7 linked regions of the Homo sapiens genome follow. The protein of the gene in region 5 purifies or fractionates together with the protein of the main gene of each other region. This does not show direct contact. Each region holds a gene or a part of one and is shown on either strand. Other genes may lie near its edges. The genes, in order: NELFB, TUT7, ACAP2, SF3A3, POLK, RBM42 and RCN2.

Region 1 (3,500 bases), on a different chromosome or scaffold from region 5:
TTGCCCAGGCTGGTCTCGAACTCCTGGGCTCAAGTAATCTGTCTGCACACCTCAGCCTCCTGAAGTGCTGGGATTATAGGTGTGAGCGACCACAACTGGTTGTGAGATTTTTTAATTAGCCAATTTTTTTTTTTTTTTTTGAGACAGAGTCTTGCTCTGTCACCCAGACTGGAGTGCAGGGCCTCAATCTCGGCTCACTGTAACCTCTGCCTCCTGAGTTCAAGCAATTCTCCTGCCTCGGCCTCTCGAGTAGCTGAGACTACAGGCGCGCCCCACCATGCCTGGCTAATTTTTTTATTTTTTTGTTTAGTACAGACAGGGTTTCACCATGTTGACCAGGCTGGTCTTGAACTCCTGACCTCAGGTAATCCGCCCACCTTGGCCTCCCAAAGTGCTGGGATTACAAGTGTGAGCCACTGCGCCCGGCCCTAACCAACTTTAAACTAGCACTGTTCAGTGGAAAAAGCGAACTATAAGTTAAGATTTTTCAGCATCCACATTAAGAAAAAAAAATGAGATCAACTTCATTAATGTTTTCTTTGGTCCAGTATATCCAAAATATTATCTTTCAGCATGTAATTCATGTGAAAGATTGGGCTGGGTACGGTGGCTCACGCCTGTACTCCTAGTACTTTGGGAGGCGGAGGTGGGAGGATCGCTTGAGCTTAGTAGTTAAAGACCAAAGGGAGACCTTGTCTCTACAAGAAAAAAAAATTAAGCTAAGCATGGTGGTGCGTACCTGTTGTCTCAACTACTCAGGAGGCTGAAGCAGGAGGATTGCTTAGGCCTCGGATATTGAGGCTGCAGTGAGGTATGATTGAGCCACTGCACTCCAACCTGGGCGACAGAGTGAGAGATCCTGTCTCAAAAGGAAAAAAAAAATATTGAGCTATAATGCTTTTTGCGGGAGGATCACTAAGATTTGAAACCTGGTGAGTCTTTCATGCTTAGAGCCCATCTGAACTACTGCACTTCAAACGCTGAGCAGTTAGTGTGGCTCTGGGTTCCCTTCGGGCCGTGGTTCCTGACCATGTGCGTGGGCAGCAGCAGGCTTGTTGGGGGTGGCAGTGCCACCTCTGTCCTCCCTTCCCTGTTTGTTTATTCCCAGTTAGGTCCTCCATGGGCCTTTTTCTTGTTCCATTGCTGTCAGACAGAGCCCTTGGACCCCTCTGCTAACTGTGGGGTGCCCTGCATTTCCCAGGCCTTTCTCCTATCGCCTGTCTCTTCTGGTGACTTGGTGCTGCCTATACTGATTTCTGTCTGTAAGGGAAATCAGTCGGCTTGGTCGGCTTAGTCCTAGGTTGATTCTCTTTTATTTTTATTTTATTTTATTTTATATATTTTTATCTTGTTTTATTTTACTACTTTTTAAAATTTATTTTTTATTTTTTTATTATTTATTTATTTATTTTTTTGGAGACAGAGTCTTGCTCTGTCACCCAGGCTGGAGTGCAGTGGCACGATCTTGGCTCACTGCAAGCTCCGCCTCCCGGGTTCACTCCATTCTCCTGCCTCAGCCTCCCAAGTAGCTGGGACTACAGGCGCCTGCCACCATGCCCGGCTAATTTTTTGTATTTTTTTTTTTAGTAGAGACGGGGTTTCACAGTGTTAGCCAGGATGGTCTCAATCTCCTGACCTTGTGATCCACCTGCCTCAGCCTCCCAAAGTGTTGGGATTATGGGCGTGAGCCACCGTGCCTGGCCTATTTTTATTTTTATTTATTTTATTTTATTTTATTTTTGAGACAGAATCTTGCTCTGTTGCCCAGGCTGGAGTGCAGTGGTGCAATCTCGGCTCACTGCAAGCTCCGCCTCCCGGGTTCACTCCGTTCTCCTGCCTCAGCCTCCCGAGTGGCTGGGACTACAGGCGCCCACCACCACGCCCAGCTATGTTTTTTGTATTTTTAGTAGAGATGGGGTTTCACCATGTTAGCCAGGATGGTCTCGATCTCCTGACCTCATGATCCACCCGCCTCGGCCTCCCAAAGTGCTGGGATTACGGGCGTGAGCCACTGAGACCGGCTATTTTATTTTATTATTTTTTTTAATTTTTAAAATTTATTTTTTAAAATTTTTTTTATTTATTTTATTTTAATTTTATATTTTGTTTTATTTTATTTTAGTTTGTTTTATTTTTTTTTTTTTGAGACGTAGTGTCCTTCTGTTGCCCAGGCTGGAGTGCAGTGGTGTGATCTCAGCTCACTGCAACCTCAGTCTCCCAGGTTCAAGTGATTCTCCTGCCTCAACCTCCCGAGTAGCTGGGATTACAGGCACCCACCACCACGCCCGACTAATTTTTGTATTTTTAGTAGAGATGGGGTTTCACCATGTTGGCCAGGCTGTTCTCGAACTCCTGGCCTCAGGTAGTCCACCCACCTTGGGCTCCCAATTTGCTGCAATTACAGGTGTGAGCCACCGTGCCCAGCCCGATTCTCTTTTAAAAAGCTAAATTAGGCCGGGTGCGGTGGCTCACGCCTGTAATCCCAGCACTTTGGGAGGCAGAGGTGGGTGGATCACGAGGTCAGGAGTTCGAGACCAGCCTGACCAACATGGTAAAAACCCATCTCTACTAAAAATACAAAAATTAACCAGACCTGGTGGTGTGCGCCTGTAGTCCCAGCTACTCAGGAGGCTGAGGCAGGAGAATCACTTGAACCCGGGAGGTGGAGGTTGCAGTTAGCCAAGATTGCGCCACTGTACTAGGCGACAGAGTGAGACTCAGTCGCAAAAAAAAAAGCTGGGCGCAGTGACTCACGCCTGTAATCCCAGCACTTTGGGAGGCCGAGGCGGGTGGATCATGAGGTCAGGAGATCGAGACCATCCTGGCTAACATGGTGAAACCGCATCTACTAAAAATACAAAAAATTAGCTGGGCGTGGTGGTGGGTGCCTGTAGTCCCAGCTGCTCGGGAGGCCGAGGCAGGAGAATGGTGTGAACCTGGGAGGTGGAGCTTGCAGTGAGCTGAGATCACGCCACTGCACTCCAGCCTGGGTAACAGAGCACGACTCGGTTTCAAAAAAAAAAAAAAAAAGTAAAAAAAAAAAAAAACTGGGTCAGGTGTGTGGCTCATGCCTGCAATCCTAGCACTTTGGGAGGCCGAGGTGGGTGGATCACCTGAGCTCAGAAGTTCAAGACCAGCCCGGGCAACATGGTGAAACCCCGTCTCTACTACAATACAAAAAATTAGCCAGTCATGGCAGCCGGCGCCTGTAATCCCAACTACTTGGGAAGCTGAGACAGGAGAATAGCTTGAATCCGGGAGGTGGAGGTTGCAGTGAACCAAGATCTTGCCATTGCACTCCAGCCTGGGTGACAGCGCAAGACTCCGTCTCAAAAAAAAAAAAAAAAAAAATTGATTGGGTGTAGGGACCAGCCCCACAGGGTTGATGGGTTTTTCTCCCCGTGTGCGGAGATGAGAGATTGTAGAAGTAAAGACACAAGGCAAAGAAATGAAAAGACAGCTGGGCCCGGGGGACCATTACCACCAAGACGCGGAGACTG
Region 2 (3,500 bases), on a different chromosome or scaffold from region 5:
CAGTAAGCTAAGATCACACTACTGCACTGCAGCCTGGCCGACAGAACCAGACCTTATCTCAAAAATAAATAAAAAACAAACTTTACCTTGTTAATGCTATCTACTGAGAAGACACAATGATTTAGGAATTTTTAAATTTAAGCTTGTAAGTTTTATTTTCTAAAAAATAAATTTTTTTCAGCTTTTTCTAAGAGTGTCAACCGGCTTATTTTGTCAATATGTCTATTTATTTTTAAACAGAGGATTTTTCTCCAACAATTATAGAAGATCAGGCTCGTGAACATATTCGGCAAAACCTAGAAAGTTTCATAAGACAGGACTTTCCAGGTAAATGATTTATTTTTTATTTTTAAGAAAAGTAGTGTAACCTTTTTTCCAAATCAGTTCATGTGTTACAAGCACACTGATTTTGAGAATCAGGATTTCCATTGTTTTGCAATATACCCAGGATGGTCCTTGGTCTGCCAAATCCTCATTTACCAACAGAAACAGTGTAGGGTTTATTCTAGCAAGTGCCATAAGTGAATTTCATTTAATACTATGTTTAGAGTCAAAGTTAAGCTTACATTATTAAATGTGTTGAGGTGATCTAACATTTTCCTTGAAATGTCTTTGCATTTAAGAATAAAGGAGCACCTGGTAATCTTTCTTGCCATATACAGCTTGTATGTAAAGGAAGCTTTGAGAGAAAAAGACTTTAGCATAAATGACCAGTTAATCAGAGAACATAAGTATGAGATTAATATAGGATAATTAAACAACTGGGTGTTTTTGATTCATGAGAGGGCCATTTTGATCAAAAATTAAATGTACTCAGGTAATTAGTTATTACTTTTCATATATCCCTAACAGGAACTAAATTGAGCCTGTTTGGCTCCTCCAAAAATGGATTTGGGTTCAAACAGAGTGACCTTGACGTCTGTATGACAATTAATGGACTTGAAACTGCTGAGGTACAGTGACCACATAAAACTTCCATTTGCTGTGGCAGTGTGATTTAACCAATCTAGACTGGCATTACAGCTTGGTATTTTCCAAATTTATCAGGGCATACCATATAGAGTGTGCTGTTTGGCACAGTCTCTGGCCAAATACATTAAGAGGCTTGGAAAGGTTGTGAGGAATGTGAGGAGCAGAAAGGTTATACTTTCACTCTGTAGCAAAAAGTGGATTGGAAAGTGTTGCCTGGGAATTCTACATAGCCAAACCAGCCTCTTCAGTGTCCCATTGGCTTGGCTACTATGCTGACTTGGATCACACACTCACATAAGGTTACCTGTAAAGTTTGTTACCAGACAGGCAGTGTGGTAAATCATAAGAGTACTAACCTTAGAGTCCAGAGGCCTGGATTTGAGACAAACTTGTTTCATCAGTACCTAAACATGTGGTCTTTGGTAAATAATCGATAAAGTATAATATCTGTTCCTCCTGCCTCCGCTGATTTTTGTACACATTATCATGGATCATGTGGGTCAGGAGTTAGCAAACGATGGCCCTTGGGCAATTCAGCCCCCCACTGCCTGTTTTTGTAAATAAAGTTTTATTGGGACAGAATCACACCCATTCACATATGTAATGTCTATGGCTGCCTTCACTCTTAAGTACAGAGTTTAGTAGTTGTAAGAGACCATATGGCGTGCAAAGCAAAACAAACTTGCCAGCCCCTGGGATATCTGAAGGCATTTATAAAATATAAAACACTATATAAAGGTATAAAGTCTAGGAAGTGCTGAGTCCCTATTCTTTTAAATCCTTAACAGCAGTCCAAATGCTAAATATCCAAATGAATGATGCTGCTGTTGCTGAAGACCTTTTTGTACCTTTTCTTAGTTTCAAGTCTTTCTATTTTGAGGATGTATCTGATTTGGGAAAATAGTCAAAAGTGATCTAGCCTGAATTTGAATAAAGTATATAAGCAAGATTGGCTCAACATATGGAATGACCCTATCATACATCCTCAAGGTTTATTTATTTATTTATTTTTTTACATGGCTTATAAACTAGTTTTGAGGGCATTTCTAAAGTAACATTCCACGTATGTTCTGGGATTTTTATAACCATCAAAAAGGCGTATGTTGAGTCAGCCCAAATGTTTTTAAGAATGATTTATCAAATACTATTTATATTTGCTGTATGACTTTAGTTATATGCATTATAATTCTGGCTAGTCCTATAGGGAAATAATTTGAGCTTAATCACTCTCCACAGCAATTCATCAACTCTTAAACTATAGAAGGTCTGCTTAGAATGAATGAGCTGGGGCACAGAAGCCTCCTCTCATTTATTCTGGGACATGGGGTACATCCGAGTGATATTATGTGGAGGGGAAGAAATGAAGGTCCTCAACCATGGTTCAGAGACTTTTTTGGAAGCCCTAGGTCCATAAGCTTCCTGACTGATTTTAGCCTTTGTTGCACACCCAAAAACAATTAGGAAGTAGGGTATTTAGTGGTTTTTGTACCGTCAGGATATTTCCTGTGAATACTGACTCTAATACCCAACTAGAAAGGAAAAAAATAGATATAGACTGACTTGAAATTAATTACATTATTTCTGAAGGTAATGGAAACTATAGCCAGTTTCAGAACCTGTCTTCCAGTTTTGGTTAAGTTCTTTATGCCTTCTTTGTTGTAGGGATTGGACTGTGTCAGAACTATTGAAGAATTAGCAAGAGTCCTCAGAAAACATTCAGGTACCTCTGTAAACTTTTTCTAAAAATATTTCTGACTTTTTAATTAGTGTTTTCTATAGTCTTCCCTTGGTATCCATGGGGTATTTGTTCCAGGCCCACCCATCACCCCTCAACCCTCCCTTCCCCAGCAGATAAAAAAAATCCTTAGATGCTCAAGTTCCTTATATAAAATGGCATAGTATTTACATATAACCTATATGCATCCTTCCATATAGTTTTAGTCATCTCTAGGTTACTTATAATACCTAATACAGTGTAAATACTATGTAAATAGTTGTTATACTGTATTTTTTATTTGTATTTTTTTATTGTTGTATCGTTAGTTTTTTATTAGTTGCTTTTTTCTCTTAAATATTTTTGGTTTGTGTTTGATTGGATATGGGGATGCAGGACCCACAGACATGAAAGGCCAATTGTATTTAGAGTTTATTAATGCCATGAAGCAGTATAGTGGCTCATTCATAGAATAATTGCAATATTAATGTCTTTTTAAAATCTTGTATGCGTAAGTATGAAAGACTGAGGAATTGGTGATAATTTATATGCATATTGTTGCCTAGCTCAGTTTTATTTCAAGACAAAGCCTACGCCAGACAGGCAAGAAAGGCTATAAATCCTTTTCCTTTGTTGGCGTTGTATAAGTCAAAGTGTAGGAGTTGCTAATTGTGTGAAGTGTCAAGGAAAGCACCCCGGACTGGGCTTGTGGGTTGAATTTGCAGCTGTTCTGCTCAACAAGCTGTATATGACCCTGAACAAGTCCTTCACTTGAAGCGATCTCTTTTTTTAAGAAATGGGATCTTGCTAGGTT
Region 3 (3,500 bases), on a different chromosome or scaffold from region 5:
CCCTTAATTGTATGTAGTTGCATGTAGTAGGTCTTTAAAATTTTACAAAACCTCCGTAAAAGTACTGCTTTTCTTTTACTTAAACATACTCTTGGGCTGAACACTGTGGCTCACATCTGTAATCCCAGCACTTTGGGAGGTGGAGGACGGCGGATCACTTAAGGTCAGGAGTTTGACACCAGCCTGGCCAACATGGTAAAACCCCATCTCTACTAAAAATACAAAAATTAGCCGGGTGTGGTAGTGTGCACCTGTAATCCCAGCTACTTGGGAGACTGAGGCATGAGAACTGCTTGAACCTGGGAGGCAGAGGCTGTAGTGAGCTGAGGTTGTGCCACTGTACTCCAGCCTGGGCAACAGAGCGAGACTGTCTCAAAAACAAAAAAAACAAAAAAAACAAAAAAACCCAAAATGTATTCTGTTTTACTTAGGAAGTGAATATCTATTTGAAATAAAAAGTAGAATAAATAAATTGAATAAATAAACATCTTTCTGAATTATGAAAGATTTTTGTCAGCAGTGTTCAAGTATAAAAATATTGTGGCCAGGTGCAGTGGTTCATGCCTGTAATCCCAGCAGTTTGGAAGGCTGAGACAAGAGGATCGCTTGAGGCCAGGAGTTTGAGACCAGCCTGGGCAACAAAGTGAGACACCGTCTCTACAAAAATAAAAAAATTAGTTGGGCATGGTGGCGTGCATCTGTGATTCCAGCTACATGGGAAGCTGAGGCAGGAGGTCAAGGCTGCAGTGAGTTATGTTCACACCTCTGCACTCCAGCCTGGGCAACAGAGCTAGACTCTCTCTCTCTCTCTTAAAAAAAAAAAAAAAAAGGCCTTAGCCTTGGTATGCTTTAGTTTTTATCTGATAATTTATTTTTATCCTTTAACAATGTCTATCATACACCATCCTGCAGGTTTTTCATTTTTAGATTCTATTTCAGATATGATTCTTTTTTTTTTTGAGATAGAGTTCTGCTCTTGTTGCCCAAGCTGGAGTGCAATGGCACGATGTCGGCTCACTGCACCCTCCGGCTCTTGGGTTCAAGCAGTTCTCCTGCCTCAGCCTCCCGAGTAACTGGGATTATAGGCGTGCACCTCCACGCCTGGCTAATTTTTTGTATTTTTAGTAGAAACGGAGTTTCACCATGTTAGCCAGGCTGGTCTCGAACTCCTGACCTCAGGTGATCCGCCCGCCTCAGCCTCCCAAAGTGCTGGGATTACAGGCATAAGCCACCATGCCCGGCTAGATACGATTCTTGTTCAGTAACTTAGAATAACTTTTTTTTTAAAAAGGGTGTTTGTGGGTGAATTATGTTTGAGAGACAGAGTCTTACTTGTTATCCAGGCTGTTCTCCAACTCCTGGACTCAGGTGATTCTCCTGCCGCAGCCTCCTGAGTAGCTGGGATTACAGGTATGAGTCACCATGCCCAGTCAGGTGAAAGGTTTTAATGGGCGAAAGACATTGGAATAAAATGTGACTACTAAATACACCTCAGTTATGTGTTGCTATTAAGTCTGGATTGGTGCCAATCTTGTCTCCTTCCTTTGCCTTCCATCTTTATAATAAACTTTTAGCAACTGCCTGTTAATACAGTGGGTAAGGGCTGAGGGGAAATTTTTTTTTTTTTTAATCTCAGAAGCAGTAGAATGGAATTATAAAGTAATTTTATTATGAACCAAAATACAGGAATCCTGACTGGGTGTGGTGGCTCAAACCTGTAATCCTAGCACTTTGGGAGGCTGAGGTGGGCAGATCAGTTGAGGTCAGGAGTTCGAAACCAGCCTGGCCAGCATGGTGAAACACCATCTCTACTAAAAATACAAAAAAATTAGGTGGGCGTGATGGTGGGCACCTGTAATCCCAGCTACTCGGGAGGCTGAGGCAGGAGAATTGCTTGAACCTGGGAGGCAGAGGTTGCAGTGAGCTGAGATTGCGCCACTGCACTCCAGCCTGGGGGACAGAGTGAGACTCCATCTCAAAAAAAAAAAAAAGAAAATTCTTGCAGGTGGGGCGCAATGGCTTACATTTGTAATCCCAGCACTTTGTGAGGTCGAGGTGGAAGGATTGCCTGAGACCAGCCTGGGCAACATAGAGACCTTGTCTCTAATTTTAATGAAAAAAAAAAAAAAAAAAAAGCATGTAAAGTAGGACTTATCCTCATTTTAAAAATGTGGGTTTTTTTTTGCTTTTTTTTTTTTTTTTTTTTGAGACAGAGTCTCACACTGTCGCCCAGGCTGGAGTGCAGTGGTGCAATCTCCACTCACTGCAACCTCCACCTCCCTGGTTCAGGTGATTCTCCTGCCTCAGCCTCCCGAGTAGCTGGGATTACAGGCGCCTGCCACCACACCTGGCTAATTTTTTATATTTTTAGTAGAGACGGGGTTTCACTATGTTGGCCAGGCTGGTCTTGAACTCCTGACCTTGTGATCCACCAGCTTCGGCCTCCCAAAATGCTGGGATTGCAGGTGTGAGCCACCTCGACCAGACTCAAAAATGTTTTAAAAAATCCGGAAAAATCTGCAACTGGACATTTTGATAGATTAATTGACTTTTTAAAAATAGTTACTTCTTTTGCTAGTAATTGACTTTCTTAATGGTGAACTTTCACATGGTGGTCCTGGAAGAGAATTCACTCATTTACTCTATATGTTAAGCCAAAGGCTTTAATTTCATTTGTTAGGCTGGGTGCAGTAGCTTATGCTATAATCTCAACAGTTCAGGAGGCTGAGGAGGGAGGATCACTTGAGGCCAGGAGTTTGAAATCAACCTAGGCAACAGAGTGAGACCCTGTCTTTACAAAAAAAAAAAAATTAGCCAAATGTGGCCCACGCCTGTAGTCCCAGCTACTCAGGAGGCTGAGGCAGGAGGATTGTGATGCCCTGGAGTTTGAGGTTACAGTGAGCTATGGTGATGCCACTGTACTCCACCTTGGAAGACAGAGCAAGACCCTGTCTCTTTAAAAAAAATTATTAAATATTGTGTCAGTTAAATTTGCGTTGTTTATGGTGTCTTTTATCATATAGAAATTTAAAAGCTGGCTTTTGTTTATTGCCTAGCAAAGTTTCCCTACCCCATTATATTTTTCTGTCATTTTATAGTGATTTTAAGTTTCATGTAATGCAACTGGGTCTTAGTTTTGATTGTAGCAGATAATCTAATTTTATTTTCTTCCTAATGAAAACCACTTGTTCTAACACCTTTAAAAAAAATTCATTCTTCATTGATTTAAAATGAATCGCACATCCCTTTTGTGATGTGCGGGAGGACAAATTTCCTCTTGTTATATGTTTTACATATTTAGTCTTTACAGTACTTTTTTCTTCAATTTCAGAAGAGGATATGTCTTTCTATGTATTTTGGCCTTATTTATTTAAAACTTTTTATTATTTGGCCTTATTAAAATTTCAGGGATGATTCAACTATATGGTATTTAGGAAGAGACATACTTTAGATTTAAGGACATAAATAGGTTGAAAGTAAAAGACAAACCATGCAAACAG
Region 4 (3,500 bases), on a different chromosome or scaffold from region 5:
CAGTTATGACTTATGAAAAGGCATTTTCATAAGTCATCTCATGTAAGTCAACTTACATGTTCATAAGATTATGAGAAACTTAGTAGGGCTAGAATATTATTAGTACAAAGCTGGCAGTGAATGTTCTTGAATATTTCAGGAGGAGCTGAAGTGTGGGTTGGGGTAGAGAAAGGCCTAGCCTGACCAGTATGCTTGTCTCAGAGAGAAAGCAGGGAGAGGAGTAGGAGGAAAAGAAATCTCTTTCCAGGAAGAAAAAGTGGAAGAAAGGGCAGCACTCATCCAGAAAAGATGATCAGTGTCTCTGGAGTCCTTCAGAAGACCAGCCTTTCTGATTGTGTCTGCTGTGTACAGTTTTTTTTTTTTTTTTGAGACAGAGTCTTGCTCTGTCACCCAGGCTGGAGTACAGTGGTGTAATCCGGGCTCACTGCAACCTCCACCTCCAGGGTTCAAGCAAGTCTCCTGCCTCAGCCTCCTGACTAGCTGGGACTACAGGCATGCGCCACCACGCCCGACTAGTTTTTTGTATTTTTAGTAGAGACAGGGTTTCACCATATTGGTCAGGCTGGTCTCGAAATCCTGACCTCGTGATCCGCTTGCCTCGGCCTCCCAAAGTGCTGGGATTACAGGCGTGAGCCACCGCGCCCAGCCCAATTTTTAACTCTCAGAGCCTTTCCCTTTACACATACTCGCATGGTCCGTTGAGTGGATGGCTCTGGATCAGATAGCTTGTTCACATATTTTTGTTAATTGCCGTGGACATTTTCATTCGGCCTTTGAGGACCATTCGTATAATAGCTGTAGAACTAGTCACCTGTGATTCTGTTATGACTGCTTTCAGTAAAAGGCTAGCTAGACATTGGACATTGGAGAGATATATTCTCCGCTGTGAACTTGGGCTGTGCTAGTGTGGACAGCAGGCTGAATTGCCAGTCTTGTGAGTGGCTGGGAGGCCACTCATGCCCTTGACATGAGATTTGTCCACCACTTTCTCCCTCTTTTTTTTTTTTGAAATAGTATCTCACTCTGTCACCCAGGCTGGAGTGCAGTGGCGGGATCTCAGCTCACTGCAACCTCCGCCTCCTGGGTTCAAGTGATTCCTGTGCCTCAGCCTCCCTGGTAGCTGGGACTACAGGTGTGTGCCACCACACCTGGCTAATTTTTGTATTTTTGGTAGAGACAGGGTTTTGTCTTGTTGGCCAGGCTGGTCTTGAATTCCTGGCCTCAAGTGATCCGCCTGCCTTGGCCTCCCAAAGTGCTGGAGCCACTCGACGGCCTCTCCATCCTTTAAGAGCATTTTGCTTTCCCTGCCAGGAGATGGCACTATTCTCTTCGGAATTCCAACCAGTTCTAGCCAAATACTTTCCAGAAGTTGCTCTCACTATGAACTGATAAGATTTTTGCCATTATTATACCATTTGTTGATGTCTGTTGGTTTTTGGACATTATGCAAATTTTTTTGATACAATAGTGAATAAGACACAGCCTCTTGCCCTTAAGAAACTCATTTTGTGGTTAGGGGAGACAAATAATTACAATATAATGTGATACATACCTGAATAAAGTGAGGTTGAGTCTTCTAAGTAGAAAGAGAGAAGGGAGAAGAAAAAGTTTCTGGTAGAGGAAACAGCAAACACAAAGATACAACAGTATTAGATAAAATTATATGTTCAGGAAATGAGAAATGCAGTGTGTGTGGAATATGGCTTATGAGGGAGGGAATGGTCGGAGAAAACTCTGTCAGAGAGTTATGTTGGAAATTTGGACTTTGCCTTATAAGCAGTAGGAAGCCAATAAAAGTTCTCTTAAGTAGGATAGCGTGCCACTACAGATTTGGGTTTTTAAACAGATAAACCTGGTAGCAAAATGGAAATTGGATTGGAATGAGGAGAGACTCAAGGCAAGTTAGAAAGTGGTCATCTTGGGCCGGGCGCAGTGGCTCATGCCCGTAATCCCAGCCCTTTGTGAGGCCAAGGCGGGCAGATCACAAGGTCAGGAGATCGAGACCATCCTGGCTAACACTGTGAAACCCTGTCTCTACTAAAAGTATAAAAAATTAGCCAGGCATAGTGGCGGGCATCTGTAGTCCCAGCTACTCGGGAGGCTGAGGCAGGAGAATGGCATGAACCCAGGAGGCAGAGGTTGCAGTGAGCCGAGATTGCGCCACTGCACTCCAGCTTGGGCGACAGAGCAAGACTCCATCTCAAAAAAAAAAAAAAAAAAAAAAAGTGGTCATCTTGGTGAGGAAAGGAGAAGAAAGTCCTGGTTAAGGAAATATTTTTTTTTTAATTTTTTTTTATACTTTAAGTTCTAGGGTACATGTGCACAACGTGTAGGTTTGTTACATATGTGTACATGTGCCATGTTGGTGTGCTGCACCCGTTAACTCGTCATTTACATTAGGTATATCTCCTAATGCTATCCCTCCCCCGTCCTCCAACCCCACAACAGGTCCCGATGTGTGATGTTCCCCACCCTGTGTCCAAGTATTCTCATTGTTCAATTCCCACCTATGAGTGAGAACATTCGGTGTTTGGTTTTCTGTCCTTGCGATAGTTTGCTCAGAATGATGGTTTCTAGCTTCATCCATGTCCCTACAAAGGACACGAACTCATCCTTTTTTATGGCTGCATAGTATTCCATGGTGTATATGTGCAACATTTTCTTAATCCAGTCTATTATTGATGGACATTTGGGTTGGTTCCAAGTCTTTATTATTGTGACTAGTGCTGCAATAAACGTAAGTGTGCATGTGTCTTTATAGCAGCATTATTTACAATCCTTTGGATATATGCCCAGTAATGGGATGGCTGGGTCAAATGGTATTTCTAGTTCTAGATCCTTGAGGAATCGCCACACTGTCTTCCACAATGGTTGAACTAGTTTACAGTCCCACCAACAGTGTAAAAGCGTTCCTGTTTCTCCACATCCTCTCCAGCACCTGTTGTTTCCTGACTTTTTAATCATCGCCATTCTAACTGGTGTGAGATGGTATCTCATTGTGGTTTTGATTTGCATTTCTCTTTGTAGATTCTTTGTAGTTCTTTGTAGATTCTGGATATTAGCCCTTTGTCAGATGGGTAAATTGTAAACATTTTCTCCCATTCTGTAGGTTGCCTGTTCACTCTGATGGTAGTTTCTTTTGCTGTGCAGAAGCTCTTTAGTGTAATTACATCCGATTTGTCAGTTTTGGCTTTTTTTTGCCATTGCTTTTGGTGTTTTAGTCATGAAGTCCTCGCCCATGCCTATGGCCTGAATGGTATTGCCTAGGTTTTCTTCTAGGGTTTTTATGGTTTTAGGTTTAACATTTAAGTCTTTTTTTCTTTTTCTTTTTCTTTTTTTTGTTGGAGACAGAGTCTCACTCTGTCGCCCAGGCTGGAGTGTAGTGGCATGATCCCAGCTCACTGCAACCTCCACCTCCTGGTTCCAAGCGATTCTCCTGCCTCAGCCTCCCGAGTAGCTGGGACTACAAGCATGTGCCACCATGCCCAGTTAATTTTGTG
Region 5 (2,300 bases):
AGTTTCTTACTGCATCTCCAGTGGCTAAAACAGTACCCGACCTGCAATAAGTATTTGTCAAATAAATATGGAATGCAATTTAGCCATGGGAACAGTAACTTGTCTTTGAGTCCTGAAAGCTTTAAGTTTTTCCCCTAAAGGTCTAGACTAAAAAAATATGTTCAATTCTGAAGTAAACCTTTAAAACCAGGTCCTGTTCAAGGATTCCATATTTTTAAAAACATCTTCCTAGATTTCTCTTTGCCCTCCTCTACCAGACGATTTCTCCCTAGACTCCCACTTTGTATATTCATCTATTATAGCCCTCCCTACATTGAATAGAAACTGTCCCTGGGGTGGCTCTCCATTTTTTGAGGACAAACATGTCTTAATAATCTTTATGTCCTTTATCAGCTAGGATTCAGCTATAATTAATAGGAAAACCCAAGTAACTATGGCTTAAACAATTTTTTAATTTGTTTCTTGTGAAAGTCTCAAAGTGTGCAGGCCAGTGCTGATATGTCTCTGTTTTACAAAGCCCCAAGAATCAGCCCCTGCAGCCCACTACTCTACCATCCCCCTGTGCAACCCTTATGTTCAGGTGTAAACGGCAGCATCTGCTTCCAGGCAGCAGGATGGAACAGAGAAATAGAAAGAAGAGGCAAACAGAATGCTACAGCTGCAAGAAAGGAAGGTTCCCAGAAGCAACCACACACAGTACTTCCTTTTTTTTTTTTTTTTTTTGAGACAAGGTCTCGCTTTGTCACCCAGGTTGGAGTGCAGTGGTGCAATCTCAGCTCACTGCAACCTCCGTCTCCCGGGTTCAAGCGATTCTCTTGCCTCAGCCTCCTGAGTAGCTGGGATCACAAGTGTGTGCCACCACGCCCAGCTACTTTTTTGTATTTTGAGTAGAGACGGGGTTTCACCATCTTGGCCAGGCTGGTCTCGAACTCCTGACCTCAGGTGATCCACCCGCCTTGGCCTCCCAAAGTGCTGAGATTACAGGCGTGAGACACCGCACCCGGCCAGTACTTCCTTTTATATCCCATTAGTCAAAACTCAGTCACATGGCTACCCCTAGCTGGGAGGGTGTGAGCTTCAAGGATGGGAGATACATTGTAGTCATCAATTCTGTAACACCTATTTTTCACATTATCACATCTTTTTAATTGAGATACTAAGTTGTCTGCCTGAATTGAAGTTGAGTTCTTCCATAGAGGATTTGCATATGCTTCTGCCAGTCACTAGGGGCAATACTAACCTCACTTTAATTACATTTTCTGCTTGAGCTCTTTAGGATGATACCATTTGTGTGAATTCAGATTACAAGCCTACATGTGTACTGGTTTATGGTTCAAATTCTCACTGGCAGTCCCTCCTTCCAACCAGTGCCAAGGCTGAGCATGCAAATTGCTTTGCTGTGGGGAAAAGCAAGAGAGATCAGATTGTTACTGTGTCTGTGTAGAAAGAAGTAGACATAGGAGACTCCATTTTGTTATGTACTAAGAAAAATTCTTCTGCCTTGAGATTCTGTGACCTTACCCCCAACCCCGTGCTCTCTGAAACATGTGCTGTGTCAACTCAGAGTTGAATGGATTAAGGGCGGTGCAGGATGTGCTTTGTTAAACAGATGCTTGAAGGCAGCATGCTCCTTAAGAGTCATCACCACTCCCTAATCTCAAGTACCCAGGGACACAAAAACTGCGGAAGGCCGCAGGGACCTCTGCCTAGGAAAGCCAGGTATTGTCCAAGGTTTCTCCCCATGTGATAGTCTGAAATATGGCCTCGTGGGAAGGGAAAGACCTGACCGTCCCCCAGCCCGACACCCGTAAAGGGTCTGTGCTGAGGAGGATTAGTAAAAGAGGAAGGAATGCCTCTTGCAGTTGAGACAAGAGGAAGGCATCTGTCTCCTGCCTGTCCCTGGGCAATGGAATGTCTCGGTATAAAACCCGATTGTATGCTCCATCTACTGAGATAGGGAAAAACCGCCTTAGGGCTGGAGGTGGGACCTGCGGGCAGCAATACTGCTTTGTAAAGCACTGAGATGTTTATGTGTATGCATATCTAAAAGCACAGCACTTAATCCTTTACATTGTCTATGATGCCAAGACCTTTGTTCACGTGTTTGTCTGCTGACCCTCTCCCCACAATTGTCTTGTGACCCTGACACATCCCCCTCTTTGAGAAACACCCACAGATGATCAATAAATACTAAGGGAACTCAGAGGCTGGCGGGATCCTCCATATGCTGAACGCTGGTTCCCCGGTTCCCCTTATTTCTTTCTCTATACTTTGTCTCTGTGTCTTTTTCTTTTCCAAAT
Region 6 (3,075 bases), on a different chromosome or scaffold from region 5:
TCAAGACCAGCCTGGCCAACATGGTGAAATCCCGTGTCTCTAAAAATACAAAAAAATTAGCCAGGCTTGGTGGGAGGCACCTATAATCCCAGCTACTCGGTTGGCTGAGACAGGAGTATCGCCTGAACCCAGGAGGCAGAGGTTGCAGTGAGCCGAGATCAGGCCACTGCACTCTAGCCTGGCAACAGAACAAGACTCCATCTCAAAAAAAAAAAAAAAAAGAAAAGAGATACTTTTTGCATATCATAATACTATTATCAAGTCTAAGAACATTAACTAATTCGGTATCTTCTTTTCAGTTTATATTCGTATTTCCCTAGGTGTCCCAAAACTCTGTTAGAACTATTAATGTTTTTGCCCTGAACCAGCATGCATGCAGTTTTATGTCCTTCAATTATATCTTTTTTTTTTTCTTTTTTTTTTTTGAAACGGAGTCTTGCTCCATCGCCCAGGCTGGAGTGCAGTGGCGCAATCTCGGCAGCTCACTGCAACCTCCACCTGCCAGGGTCAAGTAATTCTCCTGCCTCAGCCTCCCGAATAGCTGGGACTACAGGCGCGCACGACCATGCTTGGCTAATTTTTGGTATTTTTAGTAGAGACGGGGTTTCACCATGCTGGCCAGGCTGGTCTCGAACTCCTGACCTTGTGATCCGCCTGCCTCAGCCTTCCAAAGTGCTGGGATTACAGGCATAAGCCACCACGCCCAGCCTCGATTATATCTTAATAAGAACGGTCTCTTTCCTGCCTCTTTGTTTTGTACATATTTTTTGAAGTGTCCAGGGCAGTTGTCATGTATGATGTCCCACCTTCTGAGTTTGTCCGGTTGTTTGCTCCTGGCATTGCCTAACTTGTGCTTAGAGTGTCCCATATCACAGACGCCATGGGGCAGCCGTGCAATGGCTGAGGAAGGAGATGGACCCCTCCTGCTTCAGTGTTTGACTTCCACCCCCTCTCCTGGGACCGTCTACCTGGCCCAGAGAAGACCCTAGCTCTGTGACCTTGGGCAAGTCACTTAGCCTGGTTTTGTTTTGTTTCTTCTTTTGTTTTTTTTTTTTTTCTTTTTTTTGAGACAGAGTCTCGCACTGTCACCCAGGTTGGAGTGCAGTGGTGTAATCTTGGCTCACTGCAGCCTCCGCCTCCTGGGTTGAAGCAATTCTCCCACCTCAGCCTTCCGAGTAGCTGGGATTACAGGCACCCACCACCACACCCAGCTAATTTTTGTATTGTTTAGTAGAGATGGAGTTTCACCATGTTGGTCAGGCTGGTCTTGAACTCTTGAGCTCAAGTCATCCACCTGCCTCAGCCTCCCAAAGTGCTGGGATCACAGGCGTGAGCCACTGTGCTTGGCTCACTTAGCCTTTTAAGCCTCATATTCCTCATCCCCTCCCTTGTGGGGACAGGGATTCATTGGGACAGAGCATGTTCAGTGGAAGCACAGGCCCAACTCAGAGGCAGCATGAGAATGTCAGCTGGGTGCAGCCATGGCGGAGGAGCAGGCAGCATGTCCAGGTCTCAAGGGGGAGTTAGGGCAGGCCTTGCCAAGGAAGCAGGGCTGAGGAAAGATGAAGCCCATGTTCCTGAGGTGCCATGACGGGCAGCCAGTGGGTGACAGGGGTCCAGGGGACCAAGGGACACCAAGGCTCAGAGGAAAGGCCAGGGCTAGGGCAGAGTTAAGGGTGTTACTACAGGAATGAGTGAGGTGGCCCTGGGGTGGGGAGGGCAGTGCAGTTCAAGGTTAAAAGTAAGGACTGGAGCCAGATGCCTGAGCTCTTGTCTTAGCTCTGCCGCTTCCTGCTTGTGTCACTGTGGGCAGTGACTTCACCTCTCTGTGCCTCAGTGTAAAAGCATGGTTGGGAGTGCCAGAAATGGAAACACCCCTCCAGGTGCCAGCAGAGCTCCTGGCGCAGGGTCAGTAGGTGTTGACCATTATTACTAAGAGGTCCCTAGGCAGAGACTAGATACCTCCGAAAAGGTGGGATCGTTCAGACAAGGTAGACACTGGGCAAGGCCTCTGCATCCTCTGATGTCATCTCTTCCCCATCCCCAGATGACTTCCGGATCTTCTGTGGGGATCTGGGCAATGAGGTGAACGATGACATCTTGGCACGCGCCTTCAGCCGCTTCCCATCCTTCCTTAAGGCCAAGGTGATCCGTGACAAGCGCACAGGCAAGACCAAGGGCTACGGCTTCGTCAGCTTCAAGGACCCCAGCGACTACGTGCGCGCCATGCGTGAGATGAATGGTGGGTGCGGCCTCCCCTGGGAACTGCAGGCGCGGCAGGCGCTGGCCTAAGCCTGACCCGAGCCTGCCTTGAACCCTCTGTCTCCACAGGGAAGTATGTGGGCTCGCGCCCCATCAAGCTTCGCAAGAGCATGTGGAAGGACCGGAATCTGGACGTGGTCCGCAAGAAGCAGAAGGAAAAGAAGAAGCTGGGCCTGAGATAGGGTCTGTGGCCAGGCACCCGCTCCCACCTGGCCGGGCGCTGGCTCCTCCCTCAGTTCTCTTTGGAAAACCCCCAGCTGTCCACCCATCCCCTGCCCCAAAACCAGTTTCAATAAATTTACGTTCATTTCCACCCCTGGCTGGGCATGGAAGCACGCTGTGGGGAGCAGGGCTTGGCTTCCCCACAGCTGGAAATGGCGGGGAGCCTTGAGAGTTTACCCAGGCAAACACCCAGGCGGGGGCTTCTGAGCCCTTCCTGCGCACCCATTCCCTCTTCAAACCTCTTCCACACATGCTGAGTGCTGCTTATTCCAGAGGAGAAAGGGGGGCCAATGGCAAGGGTGAAGCCAAGCTGAGGCCCATCCCCGTGTCCTGGCTACTTCCTGTGTTCTCAGCACCAAGGTAGGAGATCTAGGCCCTTCCCTTCTGGAGCTCACAGGCTTCTAGGCCCTCTTCCATCCAGCAGACTCTCACCAAGGGTCTGAACAGTGCTTGAGGACACAATGGTGACTAAAAGTCCTGGGCCCTGCACCGTTAGAGCTCAAGGTCCAGTGCAGAAAATAGGCCCGGTGCCCTGACGATAAGAGCCCAGAGTGGTCAGGGCAGGATGGGGGCGCTGACCTGTGGGTGAGG
Region 7 (3,073 bases), on a different chromosome or scaffold from region 5:
GAGTTCAGGTACAACTTCAAAGGGGAAAATTGAATGGGATGTGCACATGTTGGCTCATATGTAGTTCTGATTGGGCCAATTTGCAGGACAGAAAATGATGTCTAGATTATGATATAAATTTAAAGGAAGCCAGGACGTTCAGAGGAAAAGCTAGCATATCATGTTTGCCTTACTTAGTTCTTTCCTTTGCAGTTTTAAAAATAGGCTTTTTTTTTTTTTAGTGTAGTTTTATGTTCACAGCAAAATTGAGCAAAAAGTAGTATAGAGAGTTTCAATATGTCCCCTGCCCCACATACGTACAGCCTCCCCCACTATCCTATCCTATATGTCATGAGATAGTACCTACCAGAGTGGTACATTTGTTAAAATCGATGAAACTGTTAACATATCATTGTCACCCAAAGTGCATAGTTTACATTAGGGTTCACTCTTGGTGCTGCACATGCTCTGGGTTTGGACAAATGTATAATTACATATTCCCACCATTGTAGTGTGGTAGAATATTTCCCTTGCCCTAAAGTCTTTCTGCTCCACCTATTCATCCCTCCCTTCCCTGTAACCCCAAGCAATACTGATCTTTTTACTGTTCATAATTTTTTAGATTGTAGTAAAATACACATAACAAAATTCATCTTAACAGTTTTTAATTGTACAGTTCGGTGGTATGGTATTAAATACAGTCAAAATGTGAAACTATTACCACCTTCCATCTCCATGAACTTCATTTGTAAAACGGAAATTTATACCCATTAAACAATAAAGCCCCCTTTCCCCTTCCCTTCAGCACCTGGCAAACACCATTCTAGTTTTTTTGTTTGAGATGGAGTCTTGCTCTTGTTGCCCAGGCTGGAGTGCAATGGCATGATTTCGGCTCACTGCAACCTCTGTCTCTTGGGGTCAAGCGATTCTCCTGCCTCAGCCTCCCGACTAGGTGGGATTACAGGCGGGCACCACCATGCCCCCTAATTTTTTGTATTTAGTAGAAATGGGGTTTCACCATGTTGGTCAAGCTGGTCTCGAACTCCTGATCTCAGGTGATCCACCTGCCTCAGCCTCCCAAAGTGCTGGAATTACAGGCGTGAGCCACCGTGCCCAGCCTCCCATTCTAGTTTTCTTTTTCTTTCTTTTTTGAGACGGAGTCTCACTCTTGTCATCCAGGCTGGAGTGCAGTGGTGCGATCTCGGCTCACTGCAACCTCCACCTCCCAGGTTCAAGCGATTCTCCTGCCTCAGCCTCCCAAGTAGCTGGGATTATAGATGCCCGCTACCACGCCCGGCTAATTTTTGTACTTTTAGTAGAGACGGGGTTTCGCCATGTTGGCATGGCTGGTCTCGAACTCTTGACCTCAGGTGATCCACCTGCCTCGGCCTCCCAAAGTGCTGAGATTACGGGCATGAGCCACCGCGCCCAGCCCCATTCTAGTTTGTGTCTATTAAAATAGACTCATATAGTATTTGTCTTTTTGTGAGTGGCTTCACTTAGCATAACGTCCCCAAAGTTCACCCATATTGTTACCAGAATTTCTTTCGTCAGGCTGAACAATACTTTATTGTTTGCATATACCACATTTTGCTTATCCATTCACCCTTTGATGGACACAGGTTGCTTCCACCTTTTATTGTGAATAATGCTGCCATGAATATGGGTGTACAAATATTTCTTTGAGATCCTGCTTTTAGTTCTTTTGGATATATATTATACATAGAAGTGGGATTGCTGGATCATATAGTAATTCTATATATATATATATATATATATATATATATATATATATTTTTTTTTTTTTTTTTTTTTTTTTTTTTTTTGAGACGGAGTCTCGCTCTGTCGCCCAGGCTGGAGTGCAGTGGCGCGATCTCGGCTCACTGCAGGCTCCGCCTCCCGGGTTCACACCATTCTCCTGCCTCAGCCTCCCGAGTAGCTGGGACTATAGGCGCCTGCCACCGCACCCGGCTAATTTTTTGTATTTTTAGTAGAGACGGGGTTTCACCGTGTTAGCCAGGATGGTCTTGATCTGCTGACCTCGTGATCCGCCCGCCTTGGCCTCCCAAAGTGCTGGGATTACAGGCGTGAGCCACCGCGCCCGACTAGTAATTCTATTTTTAATATTTTGAGGAACTGCCATAGTGTTTCCCACAGCAGCTGTGCCATTTTGCATTTCCACCAATAGTGCACAAGAGTTCCAGTTTCTTTACATCCTTACCAACACTTGCTATTTTCTGTTTTTTTTTTTTTCTTTTTTTTTTTTAATAGTAGCCATCCTGTTGGGTGAGACGTGGTATCTCGTTGTGGCTTTGATTTGCATTTCCCTAATGGTCTGTCTCTACAGTTTTGCCTGTTCCAGAATATCATTCCTTTGCAATTTAAATGTGAGGATAAATGTATGCTATTGTTTCTCAAACGTTTTTGTGTTACAATACCTCCTTTTGAGTGAGAAATGTCAACTCAAACTTACACTTTTTCACTTAGGAAGATGATTTAGGAAAGCCACTTAGAGTAAAAGTTTTTAAACAACTGTAAAAACTAATTTGCTTCATTGCAACATTTGAGTTCTGTCGAATAAATATTTGGCCAGATTTCCTGCCTGCTATAAAATTTTTTATAACTAGTAACCAATTACCTAAGGGCCTCCAGTGCAGCTACTAAAACGTCTCTATTTTATTTGGCGGGGGGGGGGGGAAACACCTCAATCCAAGCACAAAAAAAACAAGTACTGCTGAATACCTACAGTTTGCCCTATCTTTATCTCAAATTAACCAGTTAGTTCCTGAGCTGTAGAAAGGAAACCATTTGAGCTTATAAAACTATTTTAAAGTGATTATGGGGATTTTTAAAAATCTCATAGCTTTTAATCATGATTTTTCATACCTTAAAGAAAAAAACCCTACTTTTGCTTTCTGTTCCACAGAGATATTTTTCTTCTGAGACCAGGTTCCAATGAACAGAGGGCATCAACATTTTGCTCAGTTATTGTACCATTAGCAGTGATTGGTAACCTAAGTAGAGAGACTGTTCCATTACAATGACACACTAAAAGCATAAACTAAGGTCTTTTTGTGCCAGCTGCTGGCCTGTC

The links.
Region 1: the proteins of POLK (region 5) and NELFB purify together in Homo sapiens (affinity purification with mass spectrometry, with the first as the bait; one large-scale study listed by BioGRID). This does not show direct contact.
Region 2: the proteins of POLK (region 5) and TUT7 purify together in Homo sapiens (affinity purification with mass spectrometry; one large-scale study listed by BioGRID and IntAct). This does not show direct contact.
Region 3: the proteins of POLK (region 5) and ACAP2 purify together in Homo sapiens (affinity purification with mass spectrometry, with the first as the bait; one large-scale study listed by BioGRID). This does not show direct contact.
Region 4: the proteins of POLK (region 5) and SF3A3 purify together in Homo sapiens (affinity purification with mass spectrometry, with the first as the bait; one large-scale study listed by BioGRID). This does not show direct contact.
Region 6: the proteins of POLK (region 5) and RBM42 purify together in Homo sapiens (affinity purification with mass spectrometry, with the first as the bait; one large-scale study listed by BioGRID). This does not show direct contact.
Region 7: the proteins of POLK (region 5) and RCN2 purify together in Homo sapiens (affinity purification with mass spectrometry, with the first as the bait; one large-scale study listed by BioGRID). This does not show direct contact.

The regions. Positions count from the first base shown.
Region 1 is NC_000009.12:137,258,327-137,261,826, forward strand, and holds part of NELFB (negative elongation factor B), read left to right. Parts: intron 1-3,500. UniProt on the Homo sapiens protein: Essential component of the NELF complex, a complex that negatively regulates the elongation of transcription by RNA polymerase II.
Region 2 is NC_000009.12:86,316,411-86,319,910, reverse strand, and holds part of TUT7 (terminal uridylyltransferase 7), read left to right. Parts: intron 1-240; coding exon 241-327; intron 328-852; coding exon 853-953; intron 954-2,634; coding exon 2,635-2,692; intron 2,693-3,500. UniProt on the Homo sapiens protein: Uridylyltransferase that mediates the terminal uridylation of mRNAs with short (less than 25 nucleotides) poly(A) tails, hence facilitating global mRNA decay. Essential for both oocyte maturation and fertility.
Region 3 is NC_000003.12:195,436,521-195,440,020, reverse strand, and holds part of ACAP2 (arf-GAP with coiled-coil, ANK repeat and PH domain-containing protein 2), read left to right. Parts: intron 1-3,500. UniProt on the Homo sapiens protein: GTPase-activating protein (GAP) for ADP ribosylation factor 6 (ARF6). Doesn't show GAP activity for RAB35.
Region 4 is NC_000001.11:37,973,023-37,976,522, reverse strand, and holds part of SF3A3 (splicing factor 3A subunit 3), read left to right. Parts: intron 1-3,500. UniProt on the Homo sapiens protein: Component of the 17S U2 SnRNP complex of the spliceosome, a large ribonucleoprotein complex that removes introns from transcribed pre-mRNAs.
Region 5 is NC_000005.10:75,605,891-75,608,190, reverse strand, and holds part of POLK (DNA polymerase kappa), read right to left. Parts: 3' UTR 1-2,300. UniProt on the Homo sapiens protein: DNA polymerase specifically involved in DNA repair. Plays an important role in translesion synthesis, where the normal high-fidelity DNA polymerases cannot proceed and DNA synthesis stalls.
Region 6 is NC_000019.10:35,635,111-35,638,185, forward strand, and holds the end of RBM42 (RNA-binding protein 42), read left to right. Parts: intron 1-2,047; coding exon 2,048-2,242; intron 2,243-2,331; coding exon 2,332-2,444; 3' UTR 2,445-2,575; downstream 2,576-3,075. UniProt on the Homo sapiens protein: Binds (via the RRM domain) to the 3'-untranslated region (UTR) of CDKN1A mRNA.
Region 7 is NC_000015.10:76,951,821-76,954,893, forward strand, and holds the end of RCN2 (reticulocalbin-2 isoform a precursor), read left to right. Parts: 3' UTR 1-2,573; downstream 2,574-3,073.